3 separate regions of the Homo sapiens genome follow, and regions 1 and 3 are each linked to region 2. Evidence: fine-mapped expression QTL. A gene starts in region 2. Each other region holds a variant in brackets. All regions are shown on one strand. Distances are between the middles of the regions.

Region 1 (4,240 bases), 22 kb after region 2:
ATCTTCTTCTTCTTCTTCTTCTTCTTTTTTTTTTTTTTTTTTTGAGACAGTCTCACTTTGTTGCCCAGGCTGGAGTGCAGTGGCTCGATCTCAGCTCACTGCAACCTCTGCCTCCTGGGTTCAAGAGATTCTCCTGCCTCAGCCTTCCAAGTAGCTGGGATTACAGGCGTGTGTGCACCACCACGCCCGGCTAATTTTTGTATTTTTAGTAGGGACGGGGTTTTGCCATGTTGCCCAGGCTGGTCTCAAACCCCTGACCTCAGGTGATCTGCCCATCTCGGCCTCCCAAAGTGCTAGGATTACAGGTGTGAGCCACCGCGCCCGGCCCAGTATCCATCTTCTTTGACTGCATTGCGTCAGCCCTGCTTGCCTGCCAGAGGAGTTAGAAACATGACATGCCCGAGGCAGAAACGCCAGCCCTGCGTGCCCTATTTTACTCTGAAGACACAAAGGACCAGAGACAAAAAAAGACTTGCCCGGGTCACACAGACAGGGGCAAGAGTTGGCAAGAGGAAAAATCAGATACTGTGAAAAGCTTCTCAAAGTCTAGTTTTCAAAATATTGAATACCCAGTTCCTATAGAAATACAGTGTGGGAATGTGTCAGTGTCCTCTTGTAGGTTGTTAATGGAGGAACCAGCTGGGTGACAAAGCTAGTTCAATGGATATGGAAAAAAATATATATGTATACCTATATATGGAGACAGAGAGAGTCAGTTAAAACAACAAGAATTCTGGAATATTCATAAAATTGCTAAATTAGATACAAAACTGGTTAGTGTTCTATAGGGCAATAAAATCATCATGTTGGGGCTATCTTCTCTATTGAAAAGAAATCATTTGCATCTCTACTAGACAAAAATAATTTGCAACTTAACAGTTTTCTACCAGTTAACAGCTATCTTTACTGAATCTGGGCTCTAATCAATAGTAAATAATAAGTCAAGCCAAGTGACATTCCCCTAGAGTGTCAGATGACCCTTAGCAGGGTTTGTTAGATACAGCTCTCATTTGACTTTGAAAGGACACCGGTTATCTATTTGCCTTATTTCCAAGTGTTGGATGATTTTACTTATCAGGCTGTTGCAAGAGTATAAACACTTCCCAAGAAATAAAAGACATCGATACTAATGCGCATATCATTAGTGTGAGAAATAAAAGGGTCAGCAATGGCCCTGTGCATGTCACAACAGGGACACCTTCAGGCGGAGAGGAAGGGCATATTCTTCCATTTCTCCAGAGCCCAGACTCCTAGACGGGAGGCAGGAGATGTGGGGAAGAGAGGAAATTCCTAGCCATGCTTGCACAGTTATGATCCATGAGGTTCAGTCTCAGAGTGGGATCAAAGGTCAAATAAATAACCAAAAAATAATTTTTAAATGACTTGAATTCTTTATGGCAGTCACATCCCATTCAAGGGTTGTGTTGCAAAATCGGCATACGAGGCAAACATTGTAAATGGTGAGTATCACCATTGTAAATGGTGGAAAAATTCTTCAAACAGCGCCACGTGAAAGACTGTATTACCGTTTCACAATAGTCTTTTGCTGTCAGTTTTGGCTCCAATAGTAGAACAGATTTCTTTTTCTTCAGTTGAGTACCAGTTGGTTAAGGTTAACCAATTCCCCCACCACTCACACACAAAGGAATTGAATCTTTGGAGACTGGAGCCACCCTTGGAGGTGAGGTGTTTAGATCATGAGGGGTTCACAGGAGCGGAGGCAGACTTGGGGACAGCAGAACTCTCCCAGCCACGGTCCCTCCAGAAATAGGCTCTTAGAAGACAGTATCCCCTGGCTGGGAGCAGTGGCTCACGCCTGTAATCCCAGCACTTTGGGAGGTCGAGGAGGGTGGATCAACTGAGGCCGGGAGTTTGAGTCCAGCCTGACAAACATGGATAAACTCTGTCTCTACTAAAAGTATAAAATTAGTTGGCCTAGTGGCACATGCCTGTAATCCCTGCTACTCGGGAGGCTGAGGCAGGAGA[A/G]TTGCTTGAACCCAGGAGGTGGAGGTTGCAGTGAACCAAGATCAGGCCATTGCACTTCAGCTTGGGCGACAAGAGTGAAACTCCGTCTCAAAAAAAAAAAAAACCAATATCCCCTGCCTTACTTAAATTGTGATTCTCTCTCTGAGTCCTATTAGGCGAAGTGGAGATAGGCAAGTGTGTATATAATGCGACTCTAAGGTGCTTGTATATTTCTTTTAAAAAAAATGAGGCATAATTTGCACAGAGTAAAATGTGCACATCTCAAGCACACTGCTCAGTAGCTTACACCTGCACGCACAGGCCCTCTACCACCACTCAGATCAGAGTGCAGAGTATCCATCTCCCCAGCGAGGCGGCCGTGACCCTCCAAGTCAACAGTGCTCCCCTCCACCCGCAAAGTAACCGGTGTTCTGCTCTCCCTCACCATTGGTGCCTTCTGCCTGTTCTTGAACTTCATGTCAATGGAATCATGCGGCCTGTGCTCTTTTGTGTCTGGCTTCTTTTGAAGAGCATGCCGGTGAGATGCATCTGTGTTACGTGTGTCAGTTTGCGTGGTATTGCTGAGTGCTATTCCATCGTATGCATATGCAGTATCACACTTTGTTTGTCCCTTCTGTTGGTACAGAGTTTGGGCTATGATGAATAAAGCTGCTAAGAACATTCTGGTGCAAGTCCTCTGCCCCACCCAGCCCTGTGAACAGATACACTCAATTCTCTGCTGTACATTTGAACACCAGGAAGGAGGCATAGAGTTGACACCAGTGCTCTTTGCTCTTTTCCATCCACTCCTCCAGACCTCTGTCTTCAACTTCCTGTCTCCAGCAAAAAAAAAAATCTCCCGGCCCCTCTGCCCAGAGCCACTGTTCCTCCTTCTCCCTGACTCTCCTGCTCTCTGTTCTTTATTATGGAGATTGTCTTAGTCTCGCCTTTCTTGCAAAACCCTCCTTCTGGGCCTTTTGGGGTCTATCCTTCCATTCTTTGTCCCCACCACCCAATAAGATCAGGGTTTTGTTAGCAAGTGGTTGGGGGAGGCATTTGGAATTGGGGAGGGAGCTGTTGTGTGAGAGAACTGCCATGTGTTGTCTGTGCACACTCTTTATTCTTTACTTTTCTTGGCAGATAAAAGCACTTCTTGGGATTATTTTATGAAACGCAGAGGGGATTGTAAACAACAGATCATTTGTTGCGGAGATGGAGGCAGCATGTGTTCAAATTCAGTGTGTGTCTCTCTTTGGCTGTGTGATCTTGCACGAGTAACCTCCTGTGTCTGGGGCTCTAGCACCTCACCTATAAACTGGGAATGATGACCTCAAACTATGCCAGGCTTCCAGACAGTAGTGCGGCTGGTCTCTGGCACACAGTAGGCTCTTAGCACAATGTTTTACCTCCTCCTACTCTCACCTGGCACTCAGAGGGCCGGTGCATGAAAGAAAATTTGGAAAAAAAAAAAAAAAAAAAAAAAGAAGACAGAAAAGATTTATTGGCAGGGGAGAGTGAAGAAAAATAGGAAGAAATAAAGCCCCCCAGCTGGAAGCCAACACCCTGAATGCCTGTGAGGGAGGCAGCCCAGCCCGGAGGGGAACTGGGTGGAGCTGCTCTGGAGACATTCCCCACAGGCAAATATAGCCGGAAGCCACCAGGCAGGTAAGATGTAAAAAGATTAAGAGGACTAAGAGTTTGGAAAACAAACAGATCGGGCTGTGGGAGCCAACAAGGAGGTATTACCTCCACCTTGAGAGGGCTGGGCCTGACGTCCAGGTTGCTGGGAGATGCTAGCTTCCAAGGAGCTCACATAGGCATGAGGGTCACAAGAGAGTGGCCAGGGAGAGCCTGGAGTGCAAATGATCTCCCTCATCTGCCCATCACAGGACCTGAAATTCCTCCTGTAGTCATTCTTTCCACAGGGTAAGCCTTGTCCTCTCTGGGGTGTTTTGAGGTTGATGCTTCACCGTGGTATGTTTGCAAGATGCTAATAGGCTCTTCCTTGTGAGCCCTACTGAATGCTGGACTTCCTACTGGGTGCTTAATACACGACCTCACTTCATCATCAGAATCCCCGGGGAGGTGGCATGGTGACAGTCCCTTTTACAGATGAGGTAACTGAGGTTCAGAGAGGGTAAGTGACTCACACAAGGTCACACAGCCGGTAAATTGAATAGTTATTTATTTATTTATTTATTTATATTTGGGCACGGAGTCTCTCTCTGTGGCCCAGGCTGGAGTGCAGTGGCGTGGTCTCGGCTCACTGCAACCT
Region 2 (4,240 bases):
GAGGCCACTGTACCTGGTGGTAAAAACATAAACTTTGAAGCCAGACAGCCTGATAAAAGGACTAATGCATGGGACACACCAAGGGTAGTGGTAGGCACATGGTCAGTGTTCGGTGAAAGTGGCTTTTTACCACCACGATGATTGCTGCTCTTGTTAGGCAGCACACATTCACCTGGTGGCGGGAGCCTGTAGTGTCACAAGGAAAGCAACACTCAGCGTTCACATAAGGTCTCTACTGCTTCTTAGCTAAGGGACTTGGGAAATCACTCCTTCTCTCTGGCCACAGTTTACCCTCCTATAAAGTGGGGATAATGCTACTCTCTCCCTCATAGGGTATGTGCGAGGACATGAGTTACAGCTTCCAACAGAGCCTGGCATGTTGGAAATTCTTAATGAATATTAGCTATTTTATTATTATCACTGTCATCCAAGAATTCCTGAGTGGTTGAACAGAAGGGAAGATGGTTGGAGAAGTAAAAAAAGACAATCCCTTTGAAAGACTGTGTTTAGAGGGAGGGGCTCTGTCAGTTGGAGGCAGCAAGGGGTGGAGAGCTGTGACCAGTTGGTGGGGAGAGAGGGTGGGGAGCAGGGTACTGACAGGACTTGGGCTTCCTGGGGAAGCCAGGGGCAGGGGGAGTGGGAAAGTGCTGGTTCTAGCCCATTTCAAAAGCCACCGAGTTTCAGCCTTGGGTTAGGGCTTACAACTCATCTGGTTTAACTGCCTCCTGCCTGTGCCAGCCCATCATCATTGCCAGCGCGGTTTCTCCTGTCCTCCCCCCAGGCTCTGACCTTTCCATCTCCTTCGGTCCAGCAGTCCCTTTCCGCAACATGGAGTCAGGCCCACTTGACTTTAAAGCCCCATCTGCTACCGGCTGCATAACCTCAGGCAAGTGCCTTAACCTCTCTGAGCCTCTTGGCAATGCTGATTTCAACCTGACAGGGCTGCCAGAAGGATGACAGGAGAAGGCGCTTAGAAGAAATAAGGTCCCCCCTGCCCCGTGCAGTGCCACATCCCACTCCCCAGCTGCACAAACATTGCGCTCACTCAGTACTAGCTGAGAACTCATCGTAACTCTACCTGCACATCCCCTTATTTCTTTGGAAGAGTCAAGCTGAGCTTTCTCAGCGAGTATGAGGAAATAAGCAAGGTGTTGGGGAAATGCTGGGCCGGGCAGGAGCGACTGGCTTATAATCCCACTCCTGCCTCTGGTTTACTGATAAATTTTGAGCCAGGGCATGCACTAAGCTTTTGCAAGCTTGATCTCCTGTAAGGCACAGCAGTGCTGAAAGATTCTGTTCTCTGTAGGGGGGCCGGGCTGAGAGAGGTTAGGTGACTTGCCCAAGATAACCAATACATAAGGTGCAGAGCCAGACTCAGCTCAAGTCTCTGCGATGCCAAAGCTCCTATGTGCCAGGCTCCCGCTTTAGGTGGCCTGCCCATCCGCTAGGCCCTGGGTAGCAGCAGACTCCCCAACTCACCCCAGAGATCTGGGTCCCATAGGTCTGGGATTGGGCCCAGCTACCTGCACTGTTAAACAGCCTAACTGGCTCCGAGGCAGGTGACGCAAAGCTCACACTTACGGAATCACCACTTTCTGCCATATTGGCCCTGCCAGCCTCCCCCAGGCGCCAAGCCCCGTCCTCACCTGGGAAGCTGGTGTCCTGTGAGGCCACTGGGCTGAGCAGCAGTGGGACCAGGAGCCGAGAGCCTACTGCCCTCGGTCCGAAGCGGAAGTTCCCTTCCCCAGAGGCGGGAAGGGCTTTCCCCTGACGGTCCCCTCCCATGGACCAGCAGGCTGGCCCCTTTCCCGTCCCCTCACTGTCCCCCCACCCTGCTGCCCTCAGGCAGTTTCAGGTCCTATTTCTGCAACCCACTGGATTTACTGTAAATGAGACGGGTGGGTGGCAAGTTTGGTTCTGCCAACTCAGCAGCTGTGGGGAGAACACGCTGTCCTGGGGGAACATCCACAGCTCACCCTCCCAGGCTCTCTGACCTCGTGATCTTCTTCTACACTGGGCAGGGGTGTTCCTCAGTGAGCATCATGTGGCGGGCCCGCTGCCTGAGTGCTGGCTTACAGTCAGAGCCTTTGATTCCAATCCCGCCTCTGCCACTTGCCAGTTGATGTGTTGTCAGTCAAGGGAGCCCCAATTTTCTCTGCTATAGGATGGGACCATAATTGTACCTGCTCTACAGATACAGATCTCACAGGCCACTGGGAGGATAATGGAGGAAATGATGGGGGAGGAAGTGTCTGGGGGTAAACTGTAAAGGGCTGTGCACGTGTTCATTGTTAATATCACTTCATGTCCCAGGCTTCCCCTTTCTGGGCTCATCTCTTCTGCTTCCTTCCCATTCTGTGCCCCTGCTCTTTCCCTGTTCTCAGAAAATAATCTCATAATGAATTTTAAATGTGTTCATTATTTATTGATACCCCTCCCTCTGCTTCCAGCAGGGCTGGACGCTGATGACAATAATAGGCCCAGGCAGGGGCCTGTTGCTTCTTCTCGATCCTGGAATCACGCCAAGTTAGGGCCGGAGAGGGGCTGAGGTTACTCGGCCCATCCTCCTCATTTTATATACGAGGAAACTGAGGCCCAGAGGGGAGACCCACCATTTAACAAATATTTAGTGTTTGCTTCCATGTGCACTGAAGAGAGAGCTCTTAGCAAATCAGCCATGGTCCCTGCCCCCATGGGGCCTCCCTTCTACGGGGGGAGACTGGTGTTAAACACGGAATGACATGAGGCTTCATTGCTTCTGTGATAAATGTCACAGAAAGACGTGACTGCTGGGGCCGATGCCTCATGGAGGTGGCAGATGCAGACCTGGAAGCCGGCATCCCTGGCACTAGGATATCAGTCTCTCCCTGTGGCTGCGTCTCAGACGACATGATGACTAGCAAGCACCAGGAGCTGGAGGCCCTCTTGACATCTGTGCTTGGAGATGGAAATTCACTGGGCTTGTGGATGCAGCTTGGTGGAAATTAAGTGTTAACTGCAATGGGTGAACAGGAGGGAAAGATAAGTTTGATAAAACCAAAAGGTCTCTGAGCTCAGTCAACTATAGTCCCGAAGGGACCCAGGCTAGGGTGAAGAGAAGAAACACTGGATTCCACAAAGGGAGAAACGAGTTAGTAGGTTGCAAGTTGAGGGCTTCTGAGCATTCCCAAAGCCGAGTGGCTCTGGGCCTCTAGTTCTTTTTTTTTTTTTTTTTCTTGAGATGGAGTCTCAGTCTGTTGCTCAGGCTGGAGTGCAGTGGTGCGACCTCAGCTCACTAGAACCTCTTCCTCCCAAGTTCAAGCGATTCTCCTGCCTCAGCCTCCCAGGTAGCTGGGACTACAGGTGCATGCCACCAAGCCCAGCTAATTTTTGTATTTTTTTTTAGTAGATACAGGGTTTCACCATGTTGGCCAGGCCGGTCTCAAACTCCTGACCTCAAGTTGATCTGCCTGCCTCGGCCTCCCAAAGTGCTGGGATTACAGGCGTGAGCCACCATGCCCAGCCTCTGGGCCTCTAATTCTTAGGTGGCTAAGGGCAATGGGAAAAGATGGATGTCAATTTGGGGTAGAAGCAGTGAGGCTAAGAACAGGAAGCAGCAGAGGTGGGTTAGGAGCACGGACTTTGGCAGTTTGAATCCCAGCTCTTCGTCTTGCTAACTATGTGGCCACGGGAATGTTTACTGGCCTCAGTTTCCTCGTGTAGAAATGGGAAGCATGAACGCCTATCTCCTGGGGCTGTTTTGGGGGCCAGCGAGGTCCCCCTGCCATGTCCAGGGCCAGGTGAGTGCCCAGCCCTTGGTGGGCACCCACTGCAAACATGGGAACGGTATTACTTATATGAAGAGAAGATGGAATTCTTGGAACCCAGGAGCAAAGAAGCCATGCCTGGATTAGGAGGAGGCCTGGACTTGGGGATCAGGAGCTGAGGGGTCCCTGGGCCTTGACCGCTAATGGGAGCCAGCTGGTCTCTGTACCTACAAAATTTTGGACTCACATCCCTGATTGAGAGTGGAAAATCCCTGATCCCTGCAAAGAGTGGAAAAAGAAACCTACACCCCCTCACCTTCCTGTGGTTGGAAAGGGGTTCCTTGCAGCTTGGGGTGTCTTGTCCTGGCTCCTGCCCCACGTCCACCCCTCCTTGCCTGCCCCACTGAAAAACTCTCCCCCGCCTCCCCTCAGCAAGGCAGACACGTTGGCATTTTCAAAGGCTTGCCCCCCTGATGAAGAGAGAACAACAAGGA
Region 3 (4,240 bases), 130 kb after region 2:
AGTCGGGTGTGGTGGTGGGCGCCTGTAGTCCCAGCTACTCGGGAGGCTGAGGCAGGAGAATGGCGTGAACCTGGGAGACGGAGCTTGCAGTGAGCCGAGATCGCGCCACTGCACTCCAGCCTGGGTGACAGAGTGAGACTCCATCTCAAAAAAAAAAAAAAAAAAAAGGTACATCTTATTTAGTCGAGCATGGTGGCAGGCACCTGTAATTCCAGCTACTTGGGAGGCTAAGTCAGGGAGAATTGCTTGAACCCAGGAGATGGAGGTTGCAGTGATCTGAGATCGCACCACTGCACTCCAGGCTGGGTGACAGAGTGAGACTCTGTCTCAAAAAAAAAAAAAATAAAAATGGTATATCTTATAACTGGAATTGTATTTATTTATTTTTAACTGGCACTTTAGATTTGATGAGTATAGCAATAACAATGACAATCACAGTTACGGCTTAAGGGATGCTTATTGATGCCAAGGCCTTCAGTTTTTCACACTACTCTATGAGGCAGGTGCTACAACTGTTCCCATTTTATAGATGAAGAAACCGAGGCACAGGTTTGTTAAGCGATTTAGCCTAGGTTGCAAAGCTGCAAGTGGTGGAGGGGAGATTCAGGCCCCGAGTCTAGCCTAGAAGTATGCTGACAGGGGTACTGACCTGAATGCTGGCACTTGACATGAACCTGCAGCAAGGCTGGCGTGGGGAAGAGCTCCTTACACTGGTCACATTCATGGAACTTCATATCTGTGAAGTGCATAAAGAAAGACGTGCTGGGAAAGAACAAATGGTTGGCTCTCCAAGGCTGAAGAGTAACAGGGCTGGGGTTGGGGCGATGGCCAATACTTAGCAAGCATCTACCAAGTGCCAGGAATCTTATAACCTATGGTATATTTGTACAATCTAGTGGTAAAGAGCATGAGATCTGGATCCAGACTGCCTGGATGCTCAGAGGGATGTTGTGAGAATGAAATGAGAAAATATACACGAGGTGCTTAGCATGGTGTCTTGCACATAGGAAACACTCTGTAACTGACAGCTGTTGTGATTATCACCAAATTTACCTGCAAAGTAGGTTTTAATAACTGCCATCCTGGAGAGAAGGAAACAGGCTCAGAAAAGGGAAGTCACTTGCCAAGGTCATGTAGCTGATAAGTGCTGGAATCAGGATTTCCACTCAGGCCTGCCTACCACTGAGGCTGACACCCTTCCCAGGTGCCCCAACAAGCTCTCACTCAGGGCTGGTGGGAGCTTACACTGCGCTACGCTTCCAGGTTTGAGAACCACTGCCACTCAAGCTGCTGCTACTGACTGCTGCTGCTACGGACAGGTGCGCTGGGGCAGAACAAAGGCAATGACCACTGCACATCACACTAGACTATTAGAAGTGGGGATTTCTGGTGGGGCCCAGGAGGCTACACCATCAAGCCCCTCCCGCTCTCTGCCGGCGGTACCCAAACTCCACCTGCATGTTCTGCTTTGATGTGCTTCTTGTGCTCAATGGTGTTGGGGAAGGTTTTGTCACAGGAGCTGCACTGGAGTGATGAGAACTTGGAAGATCGGTGGTTCTGAGCAGCAAATACGTCAGGGTGGTGGGTTCGATTGTGGTACCACAAACCAGACAATTGCTGCAAGGAATTTGGCAAGTGTTAGGTCTTAGAAAGTTCCAGCAAGCTGGAGAGCTCACGAGGCTCTCATGAGAGAAAGAAATACATTTTTGGATAAGCTGACGTTTCTAGTATCACACACTCTTACCTATCACACCGGGTGCTGATGTGAGGAAAGCCTGGTGTTTGTGAGAATAAGGCAACTACATATTCATTGAGAAGCCACTACAGGGCAGGGCTCCCAGGAGTCCTTCACATGCCCATTCCTTACAACAAGCCTATGAGGGAGGTGTTAGAGTCTTCCTAGCGAGCTGGAAGCGGAGACACCGAGGGGTTAAATGACTAATCA[T/C]AACATCAGGAGATAGCAGGACCAGGATTCAGGCCCAGGCCTTCCAACTGTAACACCTGTGTGCTTTACCAGTGAGCTGCATCTCACGGCTTCCCAGGGAGCTGGGGCACAGCCGAGCAAGCTGCTGGAGGAGTGCACACTGCCCTTGCCCCATAAGCAAGAGTCCCTCTCCTTCCCAGGTTCCAGAGCAGCACTGGGAATACTTTCCCTACCATTCCACGCCATCCTAGGGCTCAAGCCCAGGTCTCCGTTCTGGAACGCTAATGTCACAACATGAGCGTTGGCACAAAGTTAGCTCTCAGTTTTTGCTGAGCTAAAGTTAGCAGTTATGCTTCTTTGTCTATACCCAAATCTTATAGATGCCACAAGGACCATTCTTTTCTCTGTAGTTTTAAAGCTTCTGACAGATGCAGTTTCTTTTTAGTTCTATATGGGGCTTCACTTTAATTACATATCAAATCCTAAGGTAAAAAGGCTGAGCCCTTCCCTGTGAGTTAAACAAACACAAACTAATTGTGCCAAACAAGGTAATTCCAGGTAGTGTTCCACTCCCCATTGCCGCTGTCATGCCCATTGACACATGGGAGCAATGGGTTCTATGGAAGGTGAGCATCCAAGGGGAAAAGCAGCATTAGTTCACGACAAGTCTGCTGTCTAAGAGAAGAAGCGTATGAACTCTCTGCTCCAATAATGAGCTCCCCCACTGCAGCACTCCGACCAGATCTCCTTAGAGAATCTGGATCACAAGCTGCATCCTTCATGAGAATCAGCCAATTGTCACATCCTGGATACAAGATATGATCTGCAAGCCACCAACCCGGGCATCAGGGAAGATCAAATGGAGAGTAGGTCAGGGGTGAGGGGAAGAGCTCCCAGTGGCACCTGAGGTCACCTGGTAGGCCTTGTTGCAGATCCCGCAGCTGAAGGGCTTCCCTCCAACGTGGGTCACCACGTGCCGCTCCAGCATGGACGGGGCACTGAAGATCTTCCCACACGTGGGGCAGGGGTGGTACTCTTTGGAGTGCACCTCATGGATGTGCTTCCGGTGATCCTGAAGAGTGGGGAAACTCATCCTGCACTTCTTGCAGTCATAAGGATCTTCTATGTCTAGTTTCACGGGACATCCATGAGAGGAAGAGGTGGAGAGGAAAAGAAAACACCATAGGCAGCCATCAGTGAAACACTGGTTGTTGTGTACAGCAACAAATGTGAAGACTCTGCTTTACGTAACAGGCAGGGTCATAGACTCCAAGGATCAGAAATCAGTGTAGCAGTCACCTGACTACCCCCACCTTCATCCTAGGAGGTGGGATTCCTCCAGGGTTTCAAGACTAACTGTCTCTGCAGCATCATGTAGTTCATCTCCATTCCTCATTTTACATCTTTCAAGTTAAATTACACTTTATCACTTTCCAGGGAGTTTCACCCTGGCTCGTCCGGTTTGCAGTGGGCATTCTGGAGTTTTCTAATTCTCTGTAGAGGATTTCCAGCACACTCCCCAGAGCATCACTAATTCCTTTGTCATCAACAGCACAAGTGGAGGGATGCTTCCTTTCTCCCCACTTTAGATTCAACAATAAAAACATTAGCATAATGAGTGCTCTATGACAGGCATATTCTAAGTGCTTTATGTAAATTAACTCACTTAATCCTTCCAATAACTCTATGAGTAGGTTCTATTATCATCCCTATTTTACAGATTAGGAAAATCAAGGTTTAGAGTGGTAAGGCAGTATCTTGCCCATGGGCATAATTAAGAAATGGCTGAACTGAGTAACAATCCCATCTCTCACTCCCAAATCCATGCTGTCTGAGAGCTACATGCTTGATTGGATATGCCAACCCTTCAGTGAGACCCCCACAATAAAACTAGTAGTGATGAAGAATACATTTGCCATCCTATGGCAGGAAACTTTGGTCTTTTTCTTAAAGCAACAGAAATCAAAATGTTTTAATAAAATCCTTTGCTCACAAGCCAATCTTTTATGTGCATTGATTCAGATTAATTCAGGAATTCTGACATGCAGCAGCATTCGGTATCACTAACTAGTTTCCCTGTGGACATGAGCTCTTGAAATCTCAGTTTTACACCATCTTCTAAGACACTTTGATGCAGCTTTCCATAAGCAATGATGTGGTTCTATGAAACAGGCAAGAAATGGGAGAGAGAGGGGGGCCTGGATGCTAGGCCTGCCACGGATGATATAGTTTAGGGTATGGCAAAGTATTCTGGGTCTTCTCCCTTCTGAAAGTTAATAACGTCTTCCCCTTTCCTGACGCCCAGGTAATGCTACT

What was found. PIP is the estimated chance that this variant, and not a neighbour inherited with it, causes the effect. A credible set is the group of variants that fine-mapping cannot tell apart.
Region 1: its variant is the best candidate, but not a certain one, in a credible set for the expression of C1QB in whole blood (INTERVAL, PIP 0.84).
Region 3: its variant is the best candidate, but not a certain one, in a credible set for the expression of C1QB in whole blood (TOPMed, PIP 0.61).

Annotation. Positions count from the first base shown.
Region 1 is chr1:22,628,721-22,632,960 of GRCh38, reverse strand. No RefSeq gene overlaps it. Among named protein-coding and RNA genes, the nearest start is that of MIR6127, 2.5 kb to the left of the region's middle. The variant A/G (reference allele first, on the strand shown) is at 1,987.
Region 2 is chr1:22,650,710-22,654,949 of GRCh38, reverse strand. It overlaps C1QB (complement C1q B chain), which reads right to left and starts at 1,714. Exons shown (of 3, transcript NM_001378156.1): 1 at 1,647-1,714.
Region 3 is chr1:22,518,873-22,523,112 of GRCh38, reverse strand. ZBTB40 (zinc finger and BTB domain containing 40) reads right to left here. Exons shown (of 18, transcript NM_014870.4): 14 at 2,838-3,052; 15 at 1,455-1,617; 16 at 650-736. Among named protein-coding and RNA genes, the nearest start is that of EPHA8, 42 kb to the left of the region's middle. The variant T/C (reference allele first, on the strand shown) is at 1,946.